2 separate regions of the Homo sapiens genome follow, and region 1 is linked to region 2. The links come from fine-mapping of genetic effects on gene expression. A gene starts in region 2. The other region holds a variant in brackets. All regions are shown on one strand. Distances are between the middles of the regions. Region 1 has its middle 40 kb from the start of CCR6. Region 2 holds the start of CEP43 (centrosomal protein 43).

Region 1 (15,994 bases), 88 kb after region 2:
ATCTTTCAAATAAGGAAACTCTAGATCCAGATGATTTTACTGATTAACTCTACCAATCATTTAAAGAAGAAATAATAGAAATCCTTCACGAAGTCTTGCAGAAATGAGGAAGAGGGAGCACTTCTCAACAGACACCAAACCAGACGGACAGTGCACTAAAATAACCCCCCAACACCCATGTCCCTCATAAACACAGATACAAAAATGTGGAAAAATATTAGCAAATGAAATCCAGCAATAGGTAAAATTAATAATACATGGTGACTACATTGAGTTTTTCTGGGGGAGTGCTAGGGTGGCTCAATATTTGAAAGACAATGCCATCCAATATGTTAACATTCTAAAGAAACACCACCTTATCATGCCAATTTATGTAGAAAAATCATTCATTTGATAAAATTAAACAGCCATTCATGATAAAATTCTCAACAAACTAGGAATAGAAGGGAATTTACTCAACCTGATAGAGGATGTCCACAAAAAACCTACAGCTAACATGATGGTGGAGGAATGAATGCTTTCCTTCCAAAGCTGTCCATTCTCATCACTCCTGCTCAATATTGTACTGGAAGTGATACCCTGTGCAATAAAAAAAAGAAAGAAAAGCTTACAGATTTGAAAGAAGATACAAAACTGTTCCTACTCACAGACTTGGTGATTTTCTATGTAGAAATCCTTGGCCTTAGGATTCCAGACAACCTTGATCCCCCTCCAATTTCTCACACTGTTCACTCAGTGTATTCAGCTAGTGTTTAGCTCTGTGACAAAGATTCTCTGTCACCTGGGTCAGAGGAAACTAGAGCTGACTCAGGGTCCAGCTGGTTCTCATGCTTTACATCCAGTTTGCTCCCTTCTTTCCCACTCGACATCCATTTTCGTTCCTGACTGCCTGCCCTGCCAACCTGAAGCACCAGCATCAAATGGAGAGAAAACAAACTTACCTTCCGAATAGATTTTCTACTGGTTTTGCTTCTCTGGTTAAACTCTGAGACAGTTATTTAATCTCTCAGTTTCATTATCTAAAAATGGGAAATCATACCTATTTAATCAGTTCAATCAGTTCATGGTTTTTGGTTTTTTTTTTTCCTTTTTGAGATGGAGTCTTGCTTGATGCCTAGGCTGGAGTGCAGTGGCGTGATCTCAGCTCACTGCAACCTCCACCTCCCAGGTTTGAGTGATTCTCCTGCCTTAGCCTCCTGAGTAGCTGGGATTACAAGCACAAGTCACCACGCCCAGCTTATTTTTATTTTTTTGTGAGGACGGAGTTTCCCCATCTTGGCCAGGCTGGTCTCGAACTCCTGACCTCAGGTGATCCGCCCGTCTTGGCCTCCCAAAGTGCTGAGATTACAGGCATGAGCCACTGCACCCGACCATCTCATGTTTTTAGAAACATACTTGCTAGGTATTTTTTTCTGTTAGAGAAAAGGGATCTACCTGTCTCCCTGTCTTCCTTCCTTCCTTCCTTCCTTCCTTCTTTCCTTCCATCCTCCCTTCCTCCCTCCCTCCTTCCTTCCTTCCTTACTCCCTTCCTTCCTCTCTCCCTCCCTCCCTCACTTCCTTCCTTCCTCTCTCCCTCCCTCCCCCTTTCCTTCCTTCCTTCCTTCCATCCTCTCTCCCTCCCTCCCCTTTCCTTCTTTCCTTCCTTCCTTTTTTTGCTTCAAATGACATGAGAAGAATGATTTAGTGTTCCATCGAACGTTTATCCAAAAGTAGCAGAGAGTTATATTTAAATGGCAACATTAGTTCACCATTTCTGCCCAGTAGAACTTGTTCAAAGACATCAGAAAACCTCCCCTTTCTGAAGGAGTCACCTGGACAGTCCACAGACCCCAGCCATGATCAGAGCATCTCCCAGTGTCTGTCCCTGAAACCAGGTGGGCTCATGCCAGCGAGTGGGGTGGGGTGAAGTGTTTTGAGTTGGGCTATTGAAACAGGGAAAAGGTTCCACTTTCAACAGGGGGCTGGAAGCAAAGCAGATGCTATCTGCACCCCAGTGAAAACTGTACCTTATGGGACAAAGGCAGAGCAAGATTGTTGGGCTGGACTCTGCCTCTGAGTGTCCTGAAACTTGCCTCATTGCAAGGAAATAAATCTAAGTTAGACTTTGTCCAGGAAGGTGAGGCAACCCCTAATTTTGTCAAGATTTTGAGGCAGTACTAAAGGGGTGGTGAAACTTGGTGACTCGGAATTAAGACCTATTTTCTCATCTTCTTTCTCCTGGAAATTTACCTATAGTGTTTTTATCTGCTAAACTCTTTAGAGTGGAATACTTTAGACTTGTATTTTATAAATCTTAGTTACCAGAGTCCTTAAAATTTTGGATAGATCTTGTCTAAACTAAAATAGTAAATCCTTGGATCTTAATTAAACATAACCATTATAGAAATCAAGTTGATGTGTCAATTTTTGAAAATTCATTCTCCAGCTCTCCAGAAAGAAGGGGAGAATGGATTTGGGGGAACAGCCAGCAGGTGGTTACATTGGTTTTTTCTTTATAACAAAGCCTCAGCAGTTTGGCAAAAAAAATCGGTTCAGTTTCTGATTTTTCCTTAAAATAACCTGGACAATGTGGTGACTAAGTCAGATGTGAGTTGGAGACAAAGCACCTGGCCTGGGAGATGTAATTACGAAGCAGATCAGCTTCCTGAGTCCCCTTTTGACGCTTCCCCCTAGTGCCCCATAGCCTCATTCCTCACGGTGCAGCTGTTCAGCATCTGACCTTTCCAGTGACCTCCAGAATGGCTTGCCCTTCCTGGAATCCAGTCCTATAACTCGTACCGTCATGTGGGGAAAGAGGGTCAGTACATAACAGGCCAATTTTGTGTTGAAATCTAATTCTGAAGTGCACGGATTGTGTTAGGGTCAAACCATTTCCACTCTCTCCGAGTCTCAGTTTCGCATCGGTAAATGGAGATAACACCTAGCTTGCATAAAGGCTGTGAGTTTTAAATGGGAAAACCATATCTAATACATAGTGGGTTCTCAGACTTTATTATTTTCTGCTCACCTCTGCGATTCCCAAGCTGTCGAGGATGTTAAGAGGACCGAGTTCTTGCCAAGGTCCGTCAGTCCTCAGCAATGCGTAAGGCTGTTAACAATTGTCTGTGGGGCCGCCACACAGAGCCAGCAATTCTCAATGGTGTATGTTCCAGACATAGGGCGCAGGTGTAGAGACAGATCCATAGGTCACAGCTTCTCTGTTTACCAAGAGCAGAACATAGGCCTGAGCTCTGACCCTAGTTTCATTGCTTACAGGCCTGTGACTCTGGGTATGTTTTCTTTCCTCTCTCAATTCCACTTTCCTCATCTGTAATATTTTTTTTTTGCATAGGTTTATTAAGAGAAATATTATTACTCCATGCAAAGTACTTAGCACATTGCTGGGTACAGAGAAATCACTCACATATAGTTAGCCAGAATTATGAATGCAGCCTGTTTGATAACATCTAGGAAGTGAAATCCCACACTCTTAAAAAGGTGAAGAACAGATTGCAATGATCCCAGCACATAAATAGCCTTCAGAGTCTGTCAAAAACACATCTTGGTCTTAGTTCGTTCTGGCTGTTGTAACAATAGACATTTATTTCTCACAGTTCTGGAGGCTAGAAGTCCAAGATCGAGGTGCCGGCAGATTCGATGTCTGGTGAGGGCCCAATTCCTGGTTCACAGACGGCACCTTCTTGCCTTCACTGCATCCTCACAGGGAGAAGGGACGAAGGAGCTCTCAGGGGTCTGTTATACGGGCACTAAGCCCATTCATGGGGTTTCACCCTCACGACCTAATCACCTCCCAGAGGCCCCACCTCCTAATAGCATCCCTTTCTTTAAGGGTGAGGATTTTGACATAGGAATTTTGGGGACCACACAGATATTCAGCCCATTACACCATATTGCATTTTAGAGAGACGTAATCCAGTCCATTGCAGCTTCTCTTGCAGAAGTGCTCTAGAAGGGTAAGACAGTTTTAAGACTGTTTATCTTTATGCAAATCTTTGTTTGCCTTTGGATTTTTCCAAACCTGTTACTTATGATAAAACACCCATACCAGTAAGGAGAGGCTAGACTCTCCTACAGTAACCAGCAGCCTCATGTCTCACCTGGCTCTGTGTCCTCCCAGGCCTGCCCCACAGGGCTGTCACTTGGAGGTGCTGCACGTGGTTCCACCCTGTGGGGTACCAGGGAGAGGAAAGAACAGAGCAAACTGGACACCAGAACCAGAAGGCTTCGCTCAGAAGTGCACACATTGCCTTCGTCTCAGTAAATTAGCAGAGCAAGTCCTGTAACCCCCGACAGTGATGAAGGCTGATCTGTTCCGTGCTCAGAAGGCGGAGACCTGGAAATACTGATGAAACACGAATGACTGCCCCACAGACACAGAGAAAGATGAGAGATTCTGGAGCACACTAATTTCACTTTCAGATAACATGACTCTGGCGTTCTATAAATGCCTGTGCCATGTGAGATGTCACAATGGATGACAGCTTTTTATTCCCAGAAGAAAATTCAAAATAAGACTCATCATTTTATGGTCTAATTTAAAGTGATATTTAGGAATACCTTTTTCTAGGAACACCTTTTTCTAGGAACTAATAATCAGATAAAGTTGGGTTTGGGACTGTAGACTTGGAGCCTGAAGCAATACTCTTTCTATAATGAAAATCTGAGTATAGTTGCTTCTAACAGCAAGTGAGGATTTCCTACAGAGTGTTGCTGAGGGGCTGATAAGAAACCTTTTCAGAAAGAACAGCAGATTCCTATAGACCCTATTCCCATGGAAGCATCAGCAGGAACTCCTTTTCTTTTGGTGAAAACTTTCATGTCATTGGATGATCTGTTATTAGACGACACTGCCTGAGTTCTATCTTACGATGGGGAATTGGCGTTTCTTAAGATCTTCCTTTAAATATAGCACAGATCCCCAGTATGCACATTTTCACAGAGGTGGAAGCTTTAGAAACACTCATGTAGCAGCAGATGTCTACTGTGCTCTAGCATAAGTGGAATGAAATATTCCTTAATATAGAGGGACACACACAGGCAGAACCTCTAGCGGGTCTGTGAATAATGGGAATGAAAAGTGGAAGTCCTATGGCCGGCAAGGTAGATTCCTGGGCTTCAGAGGAGGATATGAAATATTTATAGAAAACAAAATGAAATATGAACAACACATTTATCATGTTCTCCAGGCATGATAATATGTGATTTGCAGATGAGACATTCATTTGAAAAGCAAGTACACCATGAACCCTGGGACGAGGCTGTACGTTCCTAAACATGCTTGGCTTACGGCCTGGCTCAGAGCAGGGCTTGCCACATGTCATGTCACTCACAGCCATTGAGGGGCACTGCCATTTGTGCTGTTGCTGTGCTTTTTGGTCTGTCTTGGAAACCTGGGGAAGTCCCCGTTGTTCCAGTGGGGCCCTTGATAAACGTCTCAGTTTCAGGTCCTCAAGTTGAGACATCCTTTCAGTCAACTTGTGGAGTTTCTAATTCTGTGTCACTGCCTCCAGTAGAGCGCGTTTTGTGGTGGAGAGCGATGAGAGCCTCAGATCCTCGGGAAGTGCTCCACGGGTCCCGGGTCTGGCTCTCATTGTGTGTGCCAGAGCCTTGCTGCCCAAAGTGTGGCCCCAGGCCAGGGCCTTGCTGTCACCTGGAGCTCTCAGGCCCTCCCAGGGCTACTGTATCAGAACCAGTGAATCCACATGAATTCACATTGCAGTGCTTCGTCTGCACATGAAAGCTTGAGAAACACTAGCCTAGAGAACACCTCAGCATCCTTTCTGAATTAGAAGTTATGCTTTCTAGGGTTCTCATTAAGAAATGGGCAGTTGCACAGCCAATCAATGAAAATGGCTTTGCGTTCCCTGAATCTTCAACTTCTGAGAGAAGGAGGAATGTTTTTTTTTCTTCCACTCTGGTCCCCAAGAACCACTACAGGCGTTCCTTACAGAACAGCAAATGACACAGCGTTCAGCCCCAACAAGTGACCCGAAGACGCGTCCCTCATCTCATGCTTGCCTGTCTAGGCCTCACCCTTTCTCAGTTGAAATCAGTCACTGCAGCAGCGTTCGAATGGGGTCACTGGAGAAAACAGCCGCAACTTCCTGGTCCTCCGTGGGAATGGCTGAAAGTGGAAGATGGAGAGAGAATCCTGAGAAAAACCCTCCATAGGTCAGCCCCATGTCAGCCCCAGCATCTATCACCGGAGGGTTCTGAAGCTTGTGGTGCACTGAAGGTGATAATTATAAAAGAAAAAATCAAATCCAGCTCCACTCCTGACTAGATGGGCAAACACTTCATCCCCTGCACCACACATGAAGCTTTCTTTTTTTATTATTATACTTTAAGTTTTAGGGTACATGTGCACAACGTGCAGGTTTGTTACATATGTATACATGTGCCATGTTGGTGTGCTGCACCCACTAACTCATCATTTAACATTAGGTATGTCTCCTAATGCTATCCCTCCCCACTCCCCCCACCCCACAACAGGCTCTGGTGTGTGATGTTCCCCTTCCTGTGTCCATGTGTTCTCATTGTTCAATTCCCACCTATGAGTGAGAACATGCAGTGTTTGGTTTTTTGTCTTTGCGATAGTTTGCTGAGAATGATGGTTTCCACCTTCATCCATGTCCCTACAAAGGACATGAACTCATCATTTTTTATGGGTGCATAGTATTCCATGGTGTATATGTGCCACATTTTCTTAATCCAGTCTATCACTGTTGGACATTTGGGTTGGTTCCAAGTCTTTGCTATTGTGAATAGTGCGGCAATAAACATACGTGTGCATGTGTCTTTATAGCAGCATGATTTATAATCAATCCTTTGGGTATATACCCAGTAATGGGATGGCTGGGTCAAATGGTATTTCTAGTTCTAGATCCCTGAGGAATCTCCACACTGACTTCCACAATGGTTGAACTAGTTGACAGTCCCACCAACAGTGTAAAAGTGTTCCTATTTTTCCACATCCTCTCCAGCACCTGTTGTTTCCTGACTTTTTAATGATCGCCATTCTAACTGATGTGAGATGGTATCTCATTGTGGTTTTGATTTGCATTTCTCTGATGGCCAGTGATGATGAGCATTTTTTCATGTGTCTTTTGGCTGCATAAATGTCTTCTTTTGAGAAGTGTCTGTTCATATCCTTCGCCCACTTGTTGATGGGGTTGTTTGTATTTTTCTTGTAAATTTGTTTGAGTTCATTGTAGATTCTGGATATTAGCCCTTTGTCAGAGGAGTAGCTTGCAAAAATTTTCTCCCATTCTGTAGGTTGCCTGTTCACTCTGATGGTAGTTTCTTTTGCTGTGCAGAAGCTCTTTAGTTTAATTAGATCCCATTTATCAATTTTGTCTTTTGTTGCCATTGCTTTTGGTGTTTTAGACATGAAGTCTTTGCCCATGCCTATGTCCTGAATGGTATTGCCTAGGTTTTCTTCTAGGGTTTTTATGGTTTTAGGTCTAGCATTTAAGTCTTTAATCCATCTTGAATTAATTTTTGTGTAAGGTGTAAGGATGGGATCCAGTTTCAGCTTTCTACATATGGCTAGCCAGTTTTCCCAGCAGCATTTATTAAATAGGGAATCCTTTACCCATTTCTTGTTTTTGTCAGGTTTGTCAAAGATCAGATGGTTGTAGATATGCGGCATTATTTTTGAGAGCTCTGTTCTGTTCCATTGGTCTATATCTCTGTTTTGGTACCAGTACCATGCTGTTTTGGTTACTGTAGCCTTGTAGTATAGTTTGAAGTCAGGTAGCATGATGCCTCCAGCTGCGTTCTTTTGGCTTAGGATTGACTTGGCGATGCAGGCTCTTTTTTGGTTCCATATGAACTTTAAAGTAGTTTTTTCCAATTCTGTGAAGAAAGTCATTGGTAGCTTGATGGGAATGGCATTGAATCTATAAATTACCTTGGGCAATATGGCCATTTTCACGATATTGATTCTTCCTACCCATGAGCATGGAATGTTCTTCCATTTGTTTGTATCCTCTTTTATTTTGTTGAGCAGCGGTTTGTAGTTCTCCTTGAAGAGGTCCTTCACGTGCCTTGTAAGTTGGATTCCTAGGTATTTTATTCTCTTTGAAGCAATTGTGAATGGGAGTTCACTCATGATTTGGCTCTCTGTTTGTCTGTTATTGGTGTATAAGAATGCTTGTGATTTTTGCACATTGATTTTGTAACCTGAGACTCTGCTGAAGTTGCTTATCAGCTTAAGGAGATTTTGGGCTGAGACGATGGGGTTTTCTAGATATACAATCATGTCATCTGCAAACAGGGACAATTTGACTTCCTTTTTTCCTAAGTGAATACCCTTTATTTCCTTCTCCTGCCTAATTGCCCTGGCCAGAACTTCCAACACTATGTTGAATAGGAGTGGTGAGAGAGGTCATCCCTGTCTTGTGCCAGTTTTCAAAGGGAATGCTTCCAGTTTTTGCCCATTCAGTATGATATTGGCTGTGGGTTTGTCATAGATAGCTCTTATTATTTTGAGATACGTCCCATCAATACCTAATTTGTTGAGAGTTTTTAGCATGAAGGGCTGTTGAATTTTGTCGGAAACCTTTTCTGCATCTATTGAGAAATCATGTGGTTTTTGTCGTTGGTTCTATTTATATGATGGATTACGTTTATTGATTTTCGTATGCTGAGCCAGCCTTGCATCCCAGGGATGAAGCCCACTTGATCATTGTGGATAAGCTTTTTGATGTGCTGTTGGATTTGGTTTGCCAGAATTTTATTGAGGATTTTTGCATCGATGTTCGTCAGGGATATTGGTCTAAACTTCTCTTTTTTTATTGTGTCTCTGCTGGGCTTTGGTATCAGGATGATGGTGGCCTCATAAAATTAGTTAGGGAGGAATCCCTCTTTTTCTATTGATTGGAATAGTTTCAGAAGGAATGGTACCAGCTCCTCCTTATACCTCTGGTAGAATTCGGCTGTGAATCCATCTGGTCCTTGACTTTTTTTGATTGGTAAGCTATTAATTATTGCCTCAATTTCAGAGCCTGTTATTGATCTATTCAGAGATTCAACTTCTTCCTGGTTTAGTCTTGGGAGGGTGTATGTGTCAAGGAATTTATCCATTTCTTCCAGATTTTCTAGTTTATTTGCGTAGAGGTGTTTATAGTATTCTCTGATGGTAGTTTGTATTTCTATGGGATTGGTGGCGATATCCCCTTTATCATTTTTTTATTGCGTCTATTTGATTCTTCTCTCTTTTCTTCCTTATTAGTCTTGCTAGCAGTCTATCAATTTTGTTGATCTCTTCAAAAAACCAGCTCCTGGATTCCTTGATTTTTTTTTAAGGGTTTTTTTGTGTCTCTATTTCCTTCAGTTCTGCTGTGATCTTAGTTATTTCTTGCCGTCTGCTAGCTTTTGAATGTGTTTGCTCTTGCTTCTCTAGTTCTTTTAATTGTGATGTTAGGGTGTCAATTTTAGATCTTTCCTGCTTTCTCTTGTGGGCATTTAGTGCTATAAATTTCCCTCTACACACTGCTTTAAATGTGTCCCA[G/C]AGATTCTGGTATGTTATGTCTTTGTTCTCATTGGTTTCAAAGAACATCTTTATTTCTGCCTTCATTTCGTTATGTACCCAGTAGTCATTCAGGAGCAGGTTGTTCAGTTTCCATGTAGTCGAGCAGTTTTGAGTGAGTTTCTTAATCCTGAGTTCTAGTTTGATTGCACTGTGGTCTGAGAGACAGTTTGTTATAATTTCTGTTCTTTTACATTCGCTGAGGAGTGCTTTACTTCCAACTATGTGGTCAATTTTGGAATAGGTGTGGTGTGGTGCTGAGAAGAATGTATATTCTGTTGATTTGGGGTGGAGAGTTCTGTAGATGTCTATTAGGTCCGCTTGGTGCAGAGCTGAGTTCATTTCCTGGATATCCTTTTTAACTTTCTGTCTCATTGATCTGTCTAATGTTGACAGTAGGGTGTTAAAATCTCCCATTATTGTGTGGGAGTCTAAGTCTCTTTGTAGGTCTCTAAGGACTTGCTTTATGAATCTGTGTGCTCTTGTATTGGGTGCATATGTATTTAGGATAGTTAGCTCTTCTTGTTGAATTGATCCCTTTACCATTATGTAATGGCCTTCTTTGTCTCTTTTGATCTTTGTTGGTTTAAAGTCTGTTTTATCAGAGACTAGGATTGCAACCCCTGCCTTTTTTTGTTTTCCATTTGCTTGGTAGATCTTCCTCCATCCCTTTATTTTGAGCCTATGTGTGTCTCTGCACATGAGATGGGTTTCCTGAATACAGCACACTGATGGGTCTTGACTCTTTATCCAATTTGCCAGTCTGTGTCTTTTAATTGGAGCATTTAGCCCATTTACATTTAAGGTTAATATTGTTATGTGTGAATTTGATCCTGTCATTATGATGTTAGCTGGTTATTTTGCTCGTTAGTTGATGCAGTTTCTTCCTAGCATCGATGGTCTTTACAATTTGGCATGTTTTTGCAGTGGCTGGTACCGGTTGTTCCTTTCCATGTTTAGTGCTTCCTTCAGGAGCTCTTGTAAGGCAGGCCTGGTGGTGACAAAATCTCTCAGCATTTGCTTGTCTGTAAAGGATTTTATTTCTCCTTCACTTATGAAGCTTAGTGTGGCTGGATATGAAATTCTAGGTTGAAAATTCTTTTCTTTAAGAATGTTGAATATTGGCCCCCACTCTCCTCTGGCTTGTAGAGTTTCTGCCAAGAGATCCGCTGTTAGTCTGATGGGCTTCCCTTTGTGGGTAACCCAACCTTTCTCTCTGGCTGCCCTTAACATTTTTTCCTTCATTTCAACTTTGGTGAATCTGACAATTACGTGTCTTGGAGTTGCTCTTCTCGAGGAGTATCTTGGTGGTGTTCTCTGTATTTCCTGAACTTGAATGTTGGCCTGCCTTGCTAGATTGGGGAAGTTCTCCTGGATAATATCCTGCAAGTGTTTTCCAACTTGGTTCTATTCTCCCCGTCACTTTCAGGTACACCAATCAGACGTAGATTAGGTCTTTTCACGTAGTCCCATATTTCTTGGAGGCTTTGTTCATTTCTTTTTATTCTTTTTTCTCTAAACTTCCTTTCTCACTTCATTTCATTCATTTGATCTTCCATCACTGATACCCTTTCTTCCAGTTGATGGAATTGGCTACTGAGGCTTGTGCATTTGTCACGTAGTTCTCATGCTGTGGTTTTCAGCTCCATCGGGTCCTTTAAGGATTTCTCTGCACTGGTTATTCTAGTTAGCCATTCGTCTAATCTTTTTTCAAGGTTTTTAACTTCTTTGCCATGGGTTCGAACTTCCTCCTTTAGCTTGGAGTAGTTTGATTGTCTGAAGTCTCCTTCTCTCAACTCATCAAAGTCATTCTCCGTCCAGCTTTGTTCCGTTGCTGGTGAGGAGCTGCATTCCTTTGGAGGAGGAGAGGCATTCTGATTTTTAGAATTTTCAGTTTTTCTGCTCTGTTTTTTCCCCATCTTTGTGGTTTTATCTACCTTTGGTCTTTGATGATGGTGACGTACAGATGGGGTTTTGGTGTGGATGTTCTGTTTGTTAGTTTTCCTTCTAACAGTCAGGACCCTCAGCTACAGGTCTGTTGGAGTTTGCCAGAGGTCTACTCCAGACCCTGTTTGCCTGGGTATCAGCAGCAGAGGCTGCAGAACAGCGGATATTGGTGAACAGCAAATGTTGCTGCCTGATCATTCCTCTGGAAGTTTTGTCTCAGAGGAGTACCTGGCCGTGTGAGATGTCAGTCTGCCCCTACTGGGGGGTACCTCCCAGTCAGGCTACTTGGGGGGTCAGGGACACACTTGAGGAAGCAGTCTGTCCGTTCTCAGATCTCCAGCTGCATGCTGGGAGAACCACTACTCTCTTCAAAGCTGTCAGACAGGGACATTCAAGTCTGCAGAGGTTTCTGCTGCCTTTTGTTTGGCTATGCCCTGCCCCTAGAGGTGGAGTCTATAGAGGCAGGCAGGCCTCCTTGAGCTGCGGTGGGCTCCACCCAGTTCGAGCTTCCAGGCCACTTTGTTTACCTACTCAAGCCTTGGCAATGGCGGGCACCCCTCCCCCAGCCTCGCTGCCAACTTGCAGTTTGATCTCAGACTGCTGTGCTAGCAATGAGTGAGGCTCCGTGGGCATGGGATTCTCTGAGCCAGGCACAGGATATAATCTCCTGGTGTGCCGTTTGCTAAGACTGTCGGAAAAGTGCAGTATTAGGGTGGGAGTGACCCGATTTTCCAGGTGCCGTCTGTCACCCCTTTCCTTGGCTAGGAGAGAGAATTCCCTGACCCCTTGTGCTTCCCGGGTGAGGCGATGCCTCACCCTGACATGAAACTATTTTTTAAGGGCATAAACAGTGTCTACTTTTACACATGATTTCCAGCAGTAAATCAAAAAATGACAGTTAAGAAAACAAAATAAAACAAAAACAAAAACAACTCATAGTCAACTTATAAAGCAATCAATCAATAGAACCAGAATTCAAGATGGCCCAGATGTGGGAACTCTAAGACAGGGGCTTTAAAATAACTCTGATGAGGCTGTGCATGGTGGCTCACACTTGTAATCTCAGCACTTTGGGAGGTCAAAGTGGGCAGATCACCTAAGGTCAGGAGCTCGAGACCAGTCTGGCCAACATGGTGAAACCCCATCTCTACTAAAAAGACAAAAATTAGCCAGGCGTGGTGCTGGGTGCCTATAGTCCCAGCTACTAGGGAGGTTGAGGCAGGAGAATTGCTTGAACCCAGAAGGCAGAGGTTGCAGTGAGCCAAGATTGCACCATTGCACTCCAGCCTGAGCGACAAGAACAAAAACTCCATCTCAAAACAAAACAAAAACAAAAACAAAACAATACAAAAAAGCCCTGAAGAATTTGTTAAATGATCTAGAGGAAAAGGCATATGGCATACATGAACAGATGGGAAATTTCAGCAGAGAGATAGAGAGTATAAAAGACATGTGGGAATGCTACAAAAAATATATAAGACATAAAGAATTCCTTCAGAAAGCTTATCAGTGAACTAGTCTCAGCTGAAGAAAGATTAAGGAACTTGAAGATAGGTCAACAGGAATCATATAAAATGACACACAAATAACATAAAATGGGCTGGGCACAGTGGCTTATGCCTGTAATCCCAGCACTTCAGGAGGCCAAGACAGGTGGATCACAAGGTCAGGAGTTCAAGACCCGCCTGGACAACACAGTGAAACCCCATCTCTACTAAAAATACAAAAATTAGCCTGGTGTGGGGGCATATGCCTGCAGTCCCAGCTACTCGGGAGGCTGAGGCAGGAGAATTGCTTGAACCCAGGAAGCGGAGGTTGCAGTGAGCCAAGATTACACCACTACACTCTAGCCTTGGCGACAGAGTGACACTCTTGTCTCAGAAAAAAAAAAAAAAAAAAAACAACAAAAAAAAAAACATAAAATAGAGGGAAAAACTCTGTCTAACAAGGCCTCCAAGAGCTGTGAGATCATCTAATGTACATGCAGTTGGAGTCCCAGAACAAGCAAACAAACAGCAAGGAATAAAACAGAAGAAATATTTAAAGAGATAATTTGCAAATATAATGCAAGACAGCAAACCTCAGGTCCAAGAAGCTCAGGGAATCCCAACAGTATAAATACAAAAACAAATAAAAAATCTCCATACCAAAAAAAAAAAAAACCCCACCTAGACACATAAAATCAAACTTTTTAAAACCAAAGATAAGGAGAAAATGTAGAATGCATTTGGGAGTTGTGGGGGACATTACATACCCAAGAAGAAAGATAATTGTAATAGATTTCTTGTCAGACATGTAAGCTGGATGTTAATGAACTGACATCTTAAAGTACTGAAACAATTAATCCAGAATTCTATTATTCTATTACAGATCCATTAAAATATTGTTTTAAATTAAAGGCAAAAATAAAAGCTTTTTAGACCCTGAAAAACTAAGATAACTCACTGCTGAGAGACTTGTGCTACAATAAATGTTAAAGGTAGTTCTTTAGGCTATAGGAAAATTATACCAGATAAAAATTTGGGGTTACACAGAGAAGTGAGCACCAGAAATAGTAAAAGTGGATATTAAAAACATTTTCTCATGGCTGATTCTTTAAAAGACTGTCAACTATGGTGGCCAGGTGCAGTGGCTCATGCCTGTAATCCCAGCACTTTGGGAGCCTGAGATGGGCAGATGGCTTGGGTTTAGGAGTTTGAGACAAGTCTGGGCAACATGGTGAAACCCTGTCTCTACAAATAATACAAAAATTAGCTGGGCATGGTGGTGTATGCCTGTAGTCCCAGCTACTCAGGAGGCTGAGGCAAGGAGGTTGAGCCCAGGAGGGTGAGGTTGCAGTCAGGCATGACTGCACCACTGCACTCCAGCCTGAGCAACAGAGTGAGACCCTGTCTCAAAAAAAAAAAAAAAATTGTTAACTAAATTAAAAATAGTAAACAGGGTTTATGACAGATGTAGAAATAAGATACATGAAATCATTTGCACAAAGTGGAGGAAGGAGTTGGAACTATCTAATGTCATAAATGCAAACTACTAAGGAATGATAATATTCTGAAATTGTCAGTTTTTTTTAGGCAAAGTAATAATTTCAGATCAGTTGCTAGTATCAATGAACTATCAATGTTTGAAATGTTTTCAGTATAAGTAGTTCAAGGGTCAGTATGAAACTTAAATTTCGAGGGAAAAAAACTAACATCATTTAATTCTGTGGTTTTCAGATTTAGCTAATATCAGAATCACCTGGAAGAGTTTGTTAAGCAAAGTTTCTGAGCTTTCTGGGCACTATCCCTGAAAAGTCTGATGTCACACATCTCCTGGAGGTAACGCCTCTCTGTTTAACAAGCAGCCTCTGCAGCCAACAGGTTTTGCTTCTCTGGGGAGGAAGTTGACCTCAGCTGCAGTGACCTTCCTGGAGAATTAAACAGAGGGGTGCAGATCCTTACACATGGCCCTCTACCAGGATGACGACCTCCCTCTAGAACAGGAGATACTAGTTTTACTGGTTAATGGCAGAGCCGAGTCAGGGGAGGCCAGAACCAGGCAGAAGTAACTTGAGTTTTCAGCTCTGGAGAGACTGCAGCCTTGGTCAAAGCCAAGAAAATCCCCGTCCTTGCGTTATTGAAGTGGTCAGTGTGAAGAAACAAGAACTCCCCAGACACTGGATCTCTTTGATTGATCTAAAGACCTTTCACTCCAGGCACATGGGGCCCATGAAAACTGTGGGCCCAGCAGCATATCACACCAGCCTCTTGGTGTGGTGCTCTCTGTGGTTCAGAATAGGAGCCTCTCGGGTCACTGTAGGACCCCACCGGCCCCTTTCCTCCAGACATAGGCCACAGATCAGCAATGTATTTTAAGCGACCCCGTTGGCGTTGGGCCATGTGTGTGGCATCTCTGTGGCAGCAGGTGGCCACATGCTCCTGAGTCTCAGACTGGAGGTGAATAGGGCAGCAGAAGAAGTCACCAGTGTTGAGCCAAGTCACAAAGAATAGGGCCAGTGGCAAGGGTGATGAATGGGTCAAGGGGATTGTAGTCAAGGAGCTGTGGGCCAGGGCTGGGCTCCATGCAGGATTGTGCCTGGGGGACCATCGTGGGAAATGGCTTCCTTTGAGCTCCTCAAATGGAAGCAAGAGTCAGCCTGGTTTTCTTCCCTCCAGGGAGCAACACAGAAAGGATTTTCTTTCTTCCACACAAGAGGAAGTTTTTAGGCTCTGCCAAGTAACCAAAGTAATAGAAACTGTGATGTCTCCAGAACTAGCCTCCAACTTCCTCCAGGTGGCAGGAAGGGGAGCAGCCACCTCGCCTCTGTGGCTGCTTTGTTTTTCCCTTCTTTTCTTGTTCCTCCATAGCCTACTTCCTCCATTTTGGGGTTCCTGTATGTAAAGTACTCATTGACCCAGAGATTGTATCTCAAAACCTTGTACCCAAAGGAGCAATTTTCCTGTGAACGTTCCCAAGACAGCGTTCCCAAAAGGTGTTACCAGCCTCAAGTCAGCAATCATAGTGTGGAACGGC
Region 2 (15,777 bases):
GAGAGAGATTCTGTTTCTTGAGGCCTGCCCTTGCGGCCTAACACACCCCACATTTTAATAAAAGACTGTAACAAGGACAATGGTAGTTATGAACCAAAGTAAACCATCACACATGGGAACTGGCAAATGTTACAAATCAGGTCCTCTCTCCCTCTCTCCCTGTCTGGACAGTGCACCAGCTTGCCACTTGGTAACAGTATTATAACAATGCTGTCTCCTGATTTAGATAAGTGTACTGTGTGGAGTAATGGTCTTATTCTTAGGAAGACGTGGTAAAGTGTTTAAGGGTAAGGGGATCAGATGTCTACAACTTAATCCCAAATAGTTCAAGATAGATAGGTCAATAGACTGAAAGAGAAATTGATCAATAGATAAAGTTAATATGGCAAAATTGTGACAACTGGTGTATCTGAATAAATAGGTCTTTGTAGTATTCTTGCCATTTTTCCTTTAAGTTTGAAGTTTTTTCAAAATAAAACGTTTTTTAAAAAACCCTCCAACAGCTAACGTTACCTGGGTTATTAAGTCTAATAAACATGACTGACTTGCCCAAAGTCATATAGAACATTAATGTTTGGTCCAAAGCTGTCATGACACCTTGAAGTAGCCTTTTCTGAAAATGTTTAAATTTCTTTAAAATTTCTTGTGATCAAATTAATGTGTGAATATTTTTTATATCTAAAAAATAATGTTACGCGTAAACTTTGAAATTAAAAACTAACTTGGTATTTTGTTTGGGCCTGATAATTCCTGGCCGTAGGGGCTGTTCTGCACAGTGTAGGGTGTGTAGCGGTATCTCTGGGCTCTGCCAACTAGATGCCTGTAGCAGAGTGTCCCTCCCCCTACCCACAATCAAAATGTCTCCAGACCTTGTCAGATGTCCCCGGGGGAGGGCAAAATCGCCCCAATAAAGAACCACATTTCTAGAGTCAGTGTGATATAACAAAGTCAAAAGGGAAAAGAAGGCTGGTCACAGTGGCTAAGGTGACAAGGTCGCTTGAGCCCAGGAGTTCAAGGCTGCAGTGAGTCATGTTTGCACTACTGTGCTCCAGCCTGGGTGACAGAGTAAGACTCCTTCTCAAAAAAAAAAAAAAAAAAAAGGAAAAAAGAGATAAAGAGGCCGGCAATATGTGCAATATACATACATATGAAAAAAAATTTAAAGAGACCAAGGGTTTTTCCAATGGGTATATCCCAAACTTTGTCTTGTGTGTGTGTTTAATCCTTTTGTGCTCTTAGAGTTATTATCAGTCAAATATTCTATTTGACACACATTTTAGAGAATGAGTTTATAACCATTTTTGGAATTTAAATAGTACTGCCATCTAATGGTGTTAATCAATTAATTCCAGCCCTGATACACTGGCCAGATTCTGAGGCTGAATGTCAGATACTGAAGTAATGGGAGTTAAAACAGTGAGTCAAAACAGCGAGTTAACCACAAATCAAAGTAGTTCTTCAAGAAGGAGCAGTACAGAGCTTCCGACACACTGAGAATGTGCATTTCCAAGGTTTGAACGTACCATATATGGCTATGGTACCAGGCCTATGGCTTTTGAACCAATGAATTTTTTGTATACATGCACTTAGCAACACAATAATTACATTTATAAAGGGGGCTAGGCATTGTAAAGCTAAATAAATAACAAAATCCTCAGAGAATTAGTAAAAGAAAAACACTTTCATATTGTTCTCAGCATTTATTTTAAAACACCTAATTTGAAGGTATCAATTAACATAGCCAATTAACTGATAATATTAGCTATCCGTTTTCCCTCTAAAGCAGCCTTGTTGTCTGGGATATCAGCTGAGGTTTTTTGTCTCATGGCCACAGAAATGAAGAATGCAGACACACAAAGGGTGAAGTTAGAGAAGTGTAATAGGCAAAAGGAAAAGGACAGCTCTCTCTCACAGAGAGAGGTCCCAGACGGGTTGCCGTGCTGCAGTAAAATGGAGGGTTTTTATCAACGAGCTAGTAGGGAGCGGGTATCTTATCTACATAGGGCATGAAAACCTGGTTAGGACCAGGTGTGTCATCTGTATAGAGTGGAATCTCTGGCAGCCCCTACCCCATTCTTTTATCATGCAGGCAGGCTCTTAGCTTGGGCGACTCCACACTGCCTTTCTCCTTCCACCTTGCATGTGCTAACAAGAATAGGGGGAGTTTCCATGCCTTGTCCTGGGTACCTCCTTGCAGCTGCAGGCATTTCCCCCACCCCACCATGCAAGCTTCTAGCTAACCTTAGTGTGTCCCTGTCCAAAAAAGGGGAAAGGAATGTGCTCATTAAAGCCTACTGTTTTTACTGGGACCCATTTATGTAAGTTTGGTGACTACCCAAGAAACTCTCCCTCTGTGCCGGAGATGCTTATCTACATTATACAGTCCAATCTTCCAGGCTGCTCTTTGTTAAAAGAGAAGTGATTTATTTGGACTGCCTGTGGTTAGAATGGAAGTAATTTCTGAGCTGTTTTTTGTCAGAAGAAAAGCTTTTGTCAGGGACTCTTTCACCCTATCTACCTACCTAAATTATTTCTATCTCCTGTATTGCCTCTACCCATCTTAGTTCTCTGGCTGAGGTCCTGTAAATTAGACTGGCCAAAGACAGGTTTGTAGCCACAGACAAAACCCCTCAGACACCGAGTTGTAGAAGGAAGGGCTTTATTCAGCTGGGAGCATCAGCAGACTCACGTCTCCAAAAACCGAGCTCCCCAAGTGAGCAATTCCTTTCCCTCTTAAGGGCTTACAACTCTAAGGGGGTCCACATGAGAGTGTCATGATCGATTGAGCAAGCAGTGGGTATGTGATTGGGGGCTGCATGCACTGGTAATTACAATGGAACAGAACAGGACAGGGATTTTCACCGTGTTTTTCTTTTTCTATAAAATGTCTGTAATCTATAGGTAACATAACCGATTAGGTCAGGGGTTGATCATTAACTAGCATGTCCTGCCTTTAGGCAAAGAAAGGGAAGGCAGAGTTTTTCTTTTATTTGTTTCTTCTCAATCGTCTTCAGCTCAAAATAATCCTTATGCCAAAGAAGCATATGTTAGGGTGGCATATTCTGGTGTAACATCTTTGTCTCAGCAGGCAGTGAAAAATAATTTAAAAAGCCACCTTCTCTGCCTGCTGCACACTGCCCCTTGGTGGCCATCATTTTAACTGTCTTTGGTAAAGGTAGCTTTTCTTTTTTTTGCTTTGAGACGGAGTTTCGCTCTTACTGCCCAGGCTGGAGTGCAATGGCACATCTCGGCTCACTGCAACTTCCACCTCCCCAGTTCAAGCGATTCTCCTGCCTCAGCTTCCCGAGTAGCTGCAATTACAGGCGCCTGCCACCACACCCAGCTAATTTTTGTATTTTTAGCAGACGGGGGTGTTTCACCATGTTGGCCAGGGTGGTCTTGAACTCCCGACCTCAGATGATCCACCCGCCTAGGCCTCCCAAAGTGCTGGGATTACAGGTGTGAGCCACCATGCCCAGCCCAGAATGACCTTTGCTATCTCTTGCCTTCTGCATCTCTTCATTCAATCATTTTCTCTTAGTTTAATTCTAGTCAATTAAATTAAATTCTATAAATATTGAGAGAAAGCAAAATATCATGAAAAGAACATGAGCTGAAAACCAAATAGACTTGGGTGGTTCATCTCAGCTGCTAGCTGTGTGTCTGTGGGCATACTACCTAGCTTATTGGAACACTGTCTCATCTGTAAAATGGAGTTGTTTAAAAATAACTCAACATGCTCAGATCATGGAGAAAATGAAATTAGGTTGTATATTCAAAACAACTAATAATAGTTAATATTTTTATTATGTTATGATTGGGATTTTGAATACAATCTACTATCTAGCTATACATATTCACATCTACGGAGATTTTTATCCTAATTTACAAACAGAAAACTGAGGCAGAGAGACATTAGCTAACTTCCTGTGGTTAACATAACTAGTAAGTGGATTTGAACCCATGTAATGTGGCTGTAAAGTCCATGCTTTTAACCACTACACACAACCTGGTAAATCCTTGTTGAAATAAGAAAGCAATTTCAGTAAGTTGTACTGTACCAAAAGAAATGTGGAATTCATCTCTTTTCCCAACATGCTACTATCTTTTGAACATTTAAAAAAACTAATAGGCCATTGAGAACCTTATTTATTCACCACTACCTAAACTATCCTGATCTTTATGGGAACAGAATAGATGACTTCAATGAGAAGGCATTAATATTACTGAGTGCAGACTGAAAGACTATCTCGATGATTAACGACACATTTTCATTTTTTTTTTTTTTTTTTGAGATGGAGTCTCATTCTTGTTGCCCAGGCTGCAGTGCGGTGGCGTGATCTTGGCTCACTGCAACCTCCGTCTCCCAGGTTTCAAGTGATTCTCCTGCCTCAGCCTCCTGAGTAGTTGGGATTATAGGCACGCGCCACCACTCCCAGCTATTTTTTTGTATTTTTAGTAAAGATGGGGTTTCACCATGATGGTCAGGCTGGTCTGGAACTCCTGACATCGTGATCCACCCACCTCAGCCTCCCAAAGTGCTGGGATTACAGGCATGAGCCACCATGCCTGGCCTTCAATTTTTAACATTTAAGAAAAAGTGACATTCCAAGAATATGCAAGTGGAAAGCCAGAAAGCATTTCCCCTATCCTATCCTGAGTTTATTCTCATAAGAATCTAGTTGTTTAAAAACTAAGTTACTGGAACATATTTGTGATTAATTTTATGTGTCAACTTGACTGGGCCATAGAGTGCCCAGATACTTGCTGAAACATTATCCTGGGTGTGTGTATGAGGGTGTTTTGGGATGAGATTAACATTTAAATGGATAGCCTGAGTAAAGCAAATTGACCTCCCTAACATATGAGTGAGTCTCATCCAATCAGTTAGAAGCCTGAATAAAACAAAAAAACTGATCCTCCCTGAGTAAGAAAGAATCTCTCCTGCCTTCTGATCTTTTGACTGGGACATCAGCTTGTTTCTTGCCTTCAGACTCAGATTGAAACACTGACTCTTCCTGGATTTCAAGCCTGCTAGCCTCTGGTCAGGAACTATGCCATCAGTTCTCCTGGGTCTCCAGCTTGCTGGCTCATCCTGTAGACTTGCCAGCCTCAGTGATCTTGTGAGTCAGTTCCTTATATGAATCTCCTTATATATATACCCGTATACATACATATATCGTATTGGTTCTGTTTCTTTGGTAAACCCTAATACAATATTTATATTTCTTTGTTTTTTTTTTTAGACAGGGTCCCACTCTATCTCCCAGGTGGGAGTGCAGTGGCGAGATCATGGCTCACTGCAGCCTCAACCTCCCAGGCTCAAGTGATCCTCCCACCTCAGCCTCCTGAGTAACTGGGACTACAGGCCATGCCATCACGCTTGGCTAATTTTTGTATTTTGTGTAGAGAGGGGTTTTGCCATGTTACCCAGGCTGGTTTTGAACTCCTGAGTTCAAGCAATCTGCCCACCTCACCCTCCCGAAGTGTTGGGATTACAGGTGTGAGCCACCGCCCCGGCCAATATTTATATTTCTCAGACGCATCCTCTTTTTTCCATGTTCACTTGTGCAATTTTAGTTGATGTCCTTCTTCTTTCCTGGACTATTGGAATAATTTCCTTGTTCCAGTGTCAGTACATCCAATTCACCCATCCCCTCCTTGCTTCTGGAGTGCTCTTTCTAAATACAAATAGGCTAATGACATTTTGCTTTTAAACTTGTTTAGCACGCTATTTCACACCTTCAAGATGAAAGTCAAATTCATTAGATTGGTGGATAAAGTCCTTCCCAATCCAGTCATTTCTTCATCTCCAGCCACGCCACACTACCTGCCACTTCTTGCACAGAGCAATCTGCCTTAGCCTCTTGGTCTTGCACTCTTGTATGTTCGGGTACTTCTGCCTGGAATGCCTCTTTCTTATTCAATCAGGAAACTCTCATAACAGGTGTGTGTGTCTGACATTAAGTGTCACCTCCTTAGCATACATCTTGGATTTACCTCCCTGAAATCCAGGGGTGAAGGAGTCAGGGGTCTTTTTCTATTCATTGCCTTCAATTGAGCATACTTGCAGGGTGTGTTAATTCCTTGGCACTTTAGGTCTTCCCAAAATGCAGGCAGAGCAGGCTCTGGTGGACAAAGATAGCTGATAATGCAAATAACTTCAGGTGCCGGCAGTTGGAAGTTGGCCCAATGTGCAGAATGTTCTGTTCAGGGGCATGTGGGCTTGGCCTAACAGATCTGTTATAGCCCTAATATCATACTGTTGTTGGTTTTTCAATCAATGCACAAAGTTGGAAAGATATAGAGCTGACCCTGAACAACAGGGGTCTGAACCAGTGTGGGTCTACTTATATGCAAATTGTTTTCAATATATACAGTTGGCCCTCCATATCAGTGGGTTCCACAACTGAAACCAAGAATAGGTGGAAAATACAGTATTCTTGGGATGCGAATGGTCATATCCACAGGTTCCACAGGGCCAACTGTGGGATTTGAGTGTATGTGGATTTTGGTGTATACGAGAGGTCCTGGAACCAATCCCCCATGGATACCAAGGGATGTCTGTAATTTTATTTACAAAAAGAATGCAAATTCTTGACAGACTAAAAATGAGAATGAAACTAACAAAATTAGGAGGGGGAGGGGAAAAGACGAGAAAGTAAGAATGTACCAATTCCTCACCTCTCCTAGTAGGGAGCCAATATACAGTGTGTAAAATTTATAAATAATGATTTAGGTAAACAACCTAAAGTCATGAAAGCTTCTAGCAAAACTAAAAGTAATACAATTTTTTAAATTAGGAGTTAAGAATAAGTTTTTGTCCCTTTGAAGGATTTTCAGCTGGTGAGTCAAGATGTATATGTACAGTATTTAAGGTTATAATGAAAAGAACCAGAAGAACTAAAACCAGAAATTGTTAATTGCAGTTGGGTCTAGGATATGGTAACAGATAAGGTAGGTGGGTAGGTAGGTAGAGTAGCAGGGAGACCCTTACTTTTCTTTTAATATGTTCCCCCCTTTTGTTTGGATTTTTAACGATTATTATGCATTATTTCCATAACAAACAAATGTAAATAAAGTGTAGTTTAACTACAAAAAGTAACTTTTAGAACACCCTTAACAAATATTTTGTAGGAGTCAAATGAGGTAGGATCTATACGGTATGCATGAACATCAAAAAATGATCAGGACTTCTTAAGTCAAGTTAGTAAACTAAAAGATAATAGGCATAGGATCCAAATTACAGAGAGGGAGGAAGTATGTGTGTGTATGTAACATATCTATGTACAGTTGACCCTTAAGCAACATGAGGTTAGGGGCACAGACCCTCACAGTCAAAATTCCATCCCCCAAAACTGTAGTAACAGCCTACTGTTGATCGGAAGTCTTACCAACAACATAAACAATTAACACTTTTTTTTTTTTGAGATGGAGTCTTGCTCTGTCACCCAGGCAAGGAGTGCAGTGGTGCAATCTCGGCTCACTGCAACCTCCGCCTCCTGGGTTCAAGAGATTCTCCTGCCTCAGCCTCCCGAGTAGGTGCGATTACAGGCACGCACCATCATGTCTGGCTAATTTTTATCTTTTTAATAGAGACGGGGTTTCGCCATGTTGGCCAGGCTGGTCTCAAACCCCTGGTCTCAAGTGATCCGTCTGCCTCAGCCTCCCAAAGTGTTGGGATTACAGATGTGAGCCACCGCACTCGACAATTTTGTATGTTACATATGTTATATACTGTATTCTTATAATAAAGTAAGCTAAAGAAAACGTTTTAAGGAAATCATGAGGAGAAAATATATTTACTCTCCATTAAGTGTAAGTGAATCATCATAAATGTCTCCGTCCTCATAATTTTCACCTTGAATAGGCTGAGAAGCGGGGGTTGGCTTTGCTGTCTCAGGGGTGGCAGAAGTAGAAGAGGTGGAAGAGGAGGCAGGAGAGGGAGGCACAATAAGTGTAATCTGATGGAGATACATCATAATTTGTCTGACTTTTTTGCTTTTCCATTTCTCTAAACATGTTTCCATTTAGCACCAATTCTTCTTCCACCATTTGCTTTAGATTCAGTGCCTGTTTCATAGAAAAGTCCATGTTATAAGAGAAGTCAAAAGCCATATTGAATAAGTGGAACCCTTCTGCCAGATTGTCTAATGTCAATTTGTTTTCTGGCACTGCTTCGTCTTCTTCCTCATCGTCTGGCACTGGGTTCAGAAGGAGTCATCTCCATCAAGTGGTCTTCTGTTAATTCCTCTGGTGTGGTGTCTCTTAGCTCTTGAATTTCTCCAAGATTTGTATCTTGAAACCTTTTTTGCCATATCTGCAATCTCTTTCATGATTTCCTTGATTGGCTCTGTCATAAATCCTGTGAAGTGATGCACAACATCTGGAGTTCCTCCAGCAGGAATTTGTTTGGGCTTGATGGCTTTTCATGGTTTTTTCTGAAACAACAATGGCATCTTCAATGGTGTAATCCTTTCAGACGTTCATGATATTCTCTCAATTGGGGTTCTCTTCCACAGAGTACTGTGTGTAATGATCCTTAAAGTCCTTATGACTCCCTTATCTAGAGGTTGAATTAGAGGTGTTGTGTTTAGGCGCATGTAGACCATTTCAATGTGTTTGTATTGAACTCATGGGGTTCTGGGTGGCCAGGGGCATTGTCCAATATCAAAAGAACATTAAAGGCAATCCCTTACTGGCAAGGTACTTCCCGACTTTAAAAACAAAGCATTTATATAACTGATCCAGAAAAAGAGTTGCTGCTCAGCCATCTTGCTGTACAACCAAAAGAGTGGCAGGCAGTGTTTCTTTTCCCTTCAAGGCTCAATTTTATAGATAAGGGCAGTCCTGATCATACATCTGGCTGCATTTGCACAAAACAGTACAGTTAGCCCATCCCTTCCCGCCTTGGATCCTGATGTTCACTTCTCTTCCTAATAAATATCCTCTGTGGCACTATTTTCCCCCAGAATAGGGCATTTTCGTTTGCCTTAAAAACCTGTTCAGGCAGATATCTTTTCTCCTCAGTGATTTTCTCTATTTTTTTTTATTTTTATTTTTTATTTATTTTTTTTTGAGAGAGTCTCATTCTGTCTCCCAGGCTGGAGTGCAGTGGTGCAATCTCACTGTAACCTCTGCCTCCTGGGTTCAAGCGATTCTCATGCCTTAGCCTCCTCAGTAGCTGGGATTATAGATGTGCACCACCACACCTGGCTAAATTTTGTATTTTTAGAAGAGACAGGGTTTTGCCATGTTGGCCAGGCTGGTCTCGAACTCCTGGCTTCAAGCAATCCACCCACCTCAGCCTTCCAAAGTGCTGGGATTACAGGCATGAGCCACAAAGCCTGGCCTTTTGTCCTCAATAATTTCCTTAATGGTATCTGGGAACTCGTCGGCTGCATCTGGGTCAGCAGAAGCTGCTTCTCCTGTTATCTTGACATTTTTTGAAAGCCAACCCACTTTTTAAAATTATCATACCTTCCTTCATCTTCCTTTTGCTTTGTCAGATAATGACTTCACTTTTTCTTGAATATTAGATTATATAGGTATGCCTTTCTCATAGCAATCCTGCACCCACAAAAAGCTGCATTTGCAATATGAGATAAAAAGGTATTTCCCAAAAAGTGCAAGGTTTTCATGCTTGTTGGTGTAGCTGCAGCGATGGCTTCATAAACTTCCTTTTGTTTTTATACCACAGTCCTTATACTGGATTCATTTATCTTAAAATGGCAGGCGACCTTAGCTGCAGACCTCAATCTACAATACACAGCAAGCAATTCCGCTTTTTCTGTAATGTCATTAACTTTTCTCTGATTCTTGGGAGCATTTCCAGCACCACTAGCGGCACTTCGTAATGGTCCCATGGTGTTACGCAAGGTTTACAGTACTGCAGTGAACACAACGAGAAATATGTGAGAACCTCAAGAGCTTACCTTTTACTGTGATATGCAATGTACTGGAGAGATCAACTGCTCACTCAGAGATGATTATGTTACTTGGAATTTTTAGCCAATACCAGCAACACTGACGCTCACTGCAATAGCAACAGGAGGTGGCTACAAAATCATTACAGTAGTACTCTATGTACTACAGTGAATTTGATGCAGTTATTATTTAATATTGCATCTTTACAACTGTTTACACCTCTCTTGAACCTAATGGGTGCCATGTAACTGTCTGTTTGTACGTGTAAGTTTTGATAAATTTTAACTTTTTATAACAGGCTTGTATATATTTTATGATAGTAAATAATAAAATGGCCTAGTATCTACATATATTTTATGCATTCATGACATATCTAGCTTTTTCTTTTCTTTTTTTTTCCATATTTCTTGGCTAAGCGACTCATCTGTGAGGTTTTTCACAAAATTGTTGCCATCGCCAAAAATATTCCATTTACTGAAAAAAATCCACATATAAGTGTACTCACGCAGTTCAAACTAATGTTGTTCAAGAGTCAACTGTATAAAAGGTATTAATATGTCTGGAAAGAGATATGTTTCCAATTTAACAGACACTACCAATGAGAAGAGTTGGGCTAGGCAGGAAACTTCAAATTTTCCTTTTTTACTTTATATATTCTATTTGTATCTCAACTTATAACCTGTGGACCACGTTTATTAGAAGAAAATGCAGATTCCTGAAACTTCCTGCAGACCCCATGAGTGACAATCTCAGGGAGATGGAGTTCCAGAATCTGCTTTTTTTCATAGATGTTTCTTTGCCATTCCTGTGTATATCTGAGTTTCAGTAGCACTGCTAATCAATTGTTTGGGGTTCTCTCTCCTTCACCAGCATGTTCTTGCAAAACTAACCAAACACATATAAAGCGCAAACAGTACAATAGTGCACTGCACCTTCATGACCCTTACCTGTTCCAGCCTCTTCCTACCTCTTCCACATGTGATATGTGTGTACATACCCACAGACAGAAACACAGAGACATGTTTGGAAGCCAGTGTGGATGCCCTGTGATCTGTGTGTACACATGACAAGTGCATACACACGCACATAAAGGAACCCAGAGACGTGTTTGGAAGCCAGTGTGGACACCCTGTGATCTGTGCGTACACATTTGACACCTGCGTACACACTCACAGACAGAAACACAGAGATGTGTTTGGAAGCCAGTGTGGACATCCTGTGGTCTGCGCGTACACATGTGACAGGTACGTGCACGCCCACATACAGGAACACACAGAGGCCTTTGGAAGCCAGCATGGGCAGACAGGCCCTATCCCAAAGCGGCCGGCAGGCGTCTCCTAAGAATGGTTCTCGGACACACCTCTGAAAGGAAAATACAACTCGGCACCGCAGTTGACTCGGCCAAAGGAAAAAAACTTAAGCTGAAAGCTGAGGCCTGCCCGAAGGAGCCTTTCCTGTGGCGCCTGAGCCGAGGGCTTCAGGGAGAGGGCCGCGCATCGCAGCGCAGCCGCCCGTCTTCCCGTGGCTTCCCTACGGCCGCGGCTCCCGCTGCTCCTTTCCGCCGGCCACGCGGGTCGCACGACCTTCCCCTCCCGCCCACCCTGAGGCGCTGAAGCCCTCGACGCCGGCCTCGGGAAAGGCGCGGCCACCGCCCGTTTCGGATTCCCGTTTCCTTCCTCCGGGCGCGTCCTTCACCGTGGCCAAATCAGCCTCTCAACTGCTGGAGCCCGGCCTCGGACACTTCTCGGCTTACGCCGCCATACAGTGGCGCACCCCGAAACCCCGGAACCGACAGCTCGGCTGGCCTTGCGCACCCACACTCTCCAAGGCAGGGCTCGGTCCGGGGGCTGGTTTTGCCAAGGCGAGGGGCGAGGGGCAGCCCAGGCGGCCGGATGGATACCAAGAGGGCGCGTCAGCTCCGGCGGGACGGGGCTTCCAGGGCCCGGGAGGGGTCCAGGACTCCCCGCCGGCGCCTGGCTGTCGGCGGAGGGCCGCGGGGCAGGAGGGAGTGGAGACTGCGGCCCCAGTTCGGGCAGCGCGGAGCCCACCCAACGCCCTCCTCGGCCCTCGGCTCTTCCTGGGGCCATCCCGCCCCTGCACCTCGGCCTGGCACCTTTCCGGTTAGCCTCGGAGGCCGTGGCCGAGCAGGGTGCGTTCGCCTGGCTGGGGGGCCTCAGAACGTTATTTCCGGGTGACAACCTGCAGGGCCTTCCGCCCCTCGCGACCTCTCGGGAGTCCCTTCCCCGGCGCCCCCCCGGGGCTGCAGGGGCTGCAGGTTCGGTCTCGGGGCCTCCTTACCGCAGTCCGCCCGGCTTTAGGCTAGTGGGCTTTAACTACGTCGATAATATGACTCCGGCGATCTTGTGCGGCGATGGGATGCGGCCGTGGGCGGTGGAGTCCAGGCGGAGTCCGCTCTCCACACGCGAGGGCGCCTCCTCCTCACCGCTCGCCGGCTTCAAAGCTCGCGCCTCAGGCGACGGCAGCCAACGGGTTGCCGGCTGGAGGCCCCGCCGACGCCCCGCCCCTTGCGTGCCCACCCGCGCCCCGCAGCCCCGCCCCCAGCGCCGACCCTAAGTTTCGGCGCTCAGTGGTCCGGCGCTCCCCAAGGCTCGGTGTCCAGCGTCAACCCCGAGGTCTCTATGCCCCGCCTCCCGACGCCAGGGGGCAGGGCCAGCGCGCTGCGCGTCGGGGCGGGGCTTTGGCTGCGTCGGCCGCGTAGCCCGCGCGCGGAGCGTACCCTGCTGCGGCCGTTGGCCGTTAGCGCGGCTTCGGCGGTTGTCTTGGAGAAGCAAGATGGCGGCGACGGCGGCCGCAGTGGTGGCCGAGGAGGACACGGAGCTGCGGGACCTGCTGGTGCAGACGCTGGAGAACAGCGGGGTCCTGAACCGCATCAAGGTGAGGCCGGAGGCTGGGGCCGGGCCTGGCGGATCCGCAGGGCTTGCGTGGACAGCGGGCGTCACAACGGTCGCGGCGAGGAGGCCGCCTCCCTGGCGAGGGACCGGGGCCGGCGGGCACTGGGGGCGCGCCCCGGCATGGCCTCCGTCCTGCCCGCCCCACAGAGGGGGTCGGCTCGTTCGTTCGTGTGGTCCCGGAGGGCACCGCGGACTGGGGGTGCCTGGCCCATCCCCTGCCTCATTCCGTGGGGGCGGGACCGCGGGGCTTGGGGGCCACACGGGCGGCCCGCAGCTGGGCCCTGGAGTGCGGCCCCAGCGTCTCTTCCTCAGGCTCGGGCATGATCCGCGGCGGGAAAGCAGCGCGTCCAGCCGAAGCCTGGGGGTCGGAGAGCTTGTGTGACTGAGAACGTTTCGGAAGGCGTTTCTGACCTTTGCACCTGCCCTCCCAGCTCGTTGGCTTGCTCGTGTTTGTTGCTGGATAAATGTGAGCTTGTTGTGAAAATTGTCTTGAAATTATAATTTCCTGTTTCTTAACTTTTTTTTAAGGCTGAACTCCGAGCAGCTGTGTTTTTAGCACTAGAGGAGCAAGAAAAAGTAGAGGTATGAAGTTTCCAGATTTTAACATGGCTGTATTCGTTAATACTTAATTTCTTATTCATTAAAAACCGTCTTAAAAATAGTTTATAGTAACATATAGCTAGGGATAATTTTGAACTGTTAAGGATTACATTACTATTGAGAGAGAGCCAAAATTATTCTTTTTTCGTGTAGCTTTTGAATTTGGGGGTAATCTTAAGGTACCACAGTAACTCTGATACTAATGCTTAATCTGAAACAAATGGTCATAGGAGTTTCTTGAAGAAATGGTGCCATTGTCAATGTGTTAAGTGCAGGTTCACTCAGATCCTTTAGTAAGCTAATATGTTATTAATCCCTATGAAACGGGGTATATAGTATGCAACTTTTCCCAAAATTATCTGACCACTCAATTATTTTGACAATGAAAAAGACAGCGATTATTTTAAAAGTGCAGCCACTACTCTATATTTAAGTGGGTAATTTAACTTTTTCGGAGTCCCACCAACCATCCTGAGTAAATATTCTGGAATTTGTCAACAAGAATAGAACCATCATCAAAGCCTTAAACTCTTGCTGTATGACAAATCAGTCTACTGTCCTCTCACTTCTTTAGACCTGTATACCTAATCTCTAATTTCATCAAAATCTTCAGTTCTTTGCCCTTTCCATGTCTGTGCAGGCATCAGTCTTCTCTTGGCAGCATTTTGCTCTGGACCCTATGGGTCTGGACCCCTAATTACCTTGCCTTAACGGTCATACGTGGTCTGGAAGAAATCTCAGTGGTCATTTAACCCAGCAAACTAACTCTTCCCACTTTGCACATATGTGCTCTTGGAGAAGAGTCAGTCAATCCTGTGGATTGCTGATGTTGCAAATTGGCAGGTACCAACCTGGTTAGGTCCTGAGCAGGCCCAGCAGCTCTCTTCTTCACCCTAGCTGTGCAGTAGCCTTCTATGTCACCCCTGCTTCCTTCTCTCTGAACACATGGTCTTGTTGCTTCCTCCACAGGGAAGGTAGAAGCCATTAGATCCTAACTTTATGTCCTCCTCTCCTGTCCCTCAATCTATTGCTCACCTGTGAAAATGCTTACCTGTGTCTATGTTTATCTGTACCTCTTTCCTTACTGCTTTAGAAGAAGAGGCTCTGTCCTGTCCAAGAATAATCACTCTGTCTTGTGTATACTTTCAAGTCTTTAATTATTTACTGTATCTTTGACCCCTTCCTTTTCTGATGGCTTTTCTTTTGAGCTTGAAAACATGTTTAAATAACTATTAGGAGTAAACTGTTTTCCTTTACTCACATTCTGCTTTTAATACCGCTGTGGTTTTTTTCCTTCACAACCTGGTTTTGACCACTCCTTGGTTTCTTTAGCATGATCTTTTTCCTGTACACCTGACTGAGACTTATCCACAGTTGTCATTCTGTACTGTCTCACAGACTGACCTTATTCATCCAGTAACTCCAGCCCTGTAACTTTCATGCATGTTTCTTTCCCGAGCTTCAGACCTGTATGTTAAACTGCCCACTGTATTATGCCCTTAATGGGACCATCATTTATCTGGCAAGAAATCTAAGCGTTTCTTAGGCCTTGCTCTTCTTTCCACCTGCTCAGCCATCACCTGGCTCTGTGTCTGTCAGGTGTGTATCTGAAGTGTCCCCAAGGGAGTGCTCTGCTGCCTCCTTTGTGCTTGTTTCTTCTTTTCCAGATTGCCTTATCCCCTTCCTACTTGCCAGTCTCCGTTTCCGTGGTGTCCCTCACCATCTCCCTGAAGTCCTTTTTCCACATTGCTCCTAGATTGGCTGTTTATAGTACACATCTGATCTGTCCCTCCATTCTCTTAAAATATTTCAGTTGACTCCCTATCTTAGAATTCCCTGAACCAGCCTACCAACTACCTTGAGGATCTCTCCTCTCCTTGTCTTTTATTTTAACAACTTTATTGAGGTAAAATTGACCTATAGTAAAGCTAAAGTATTTAATATGTACAATTTGATTTTTAATAGTTAATTTATGCAGCTGTGAAATGATCATCACAATCAAGGTACTGCGCATATCCTTCAAACTTTTGACCTTCAAAAGTTTTCCTTGTGCCCCTTATGTAACCCTCTCCCCCACCCCAAACCTTTTTAAGAATTATATAAATGGAATCGTATAGTAGGTACTCTTTTTTTTTGGTCTGTTTCTTCAACATAATGCATTTGAAATTCATTCATGTTGTGGTATGTATTAATAAATCATTTCATTAATACATTGTACAGATATGACAGTTTAGCCATTACCTGCTGACAGACATTTAGGCTGTTTCCAGTTTTTGAGTATTACAAATAAGGTTTCTGTGAACAGTCACATACAAGTCTTTGCTTGGATCTGTGATTT

What was found. PIP is the estimated chance that this variant, and not a neighbour inherited with it, causes the effect.
Region 1: its variant is fine-mapped to the expression of CEP43 in whole blood (TOPMed, PIP above 0.99).

What each region holds. Positions count from the first base shown.
Region 1 is chr6:167,074,609-167,090,602 of GRCh38, forward strand. No RefSeq gene overlaps it. Among named protein-coding and RNA genes, the nearest start is that of CCR6, 40 kb to the right of the region's middle. RefSeq lists enhancers at 4,246-4,425, 5,256-5,595, 5,641-6,141. The variant G/C (reference allele first, on the strand shown) is at 9,515.
Region 2 is chr6:166,986,693-167,002,469 of GRCh38, forward strand. CEP43 (centrosomal protein 43) reads left to right here and starts at 12,705. Exons shown (of 13, transcript NM_007045.4): 1 at 12,705-12,822; 2 at 13,368-13,421. The coding sequence starts at 12,721. MIR3939 (microRNA 3939) reads right to left here and starts at 11,220; the gene lies at 11,115-11,220. RefSeq lists an enhancer at 11,187-11,236 and silencers at 11,777-12,006, 12,297-12,816, 12,907-13,066, 13,077-13,166.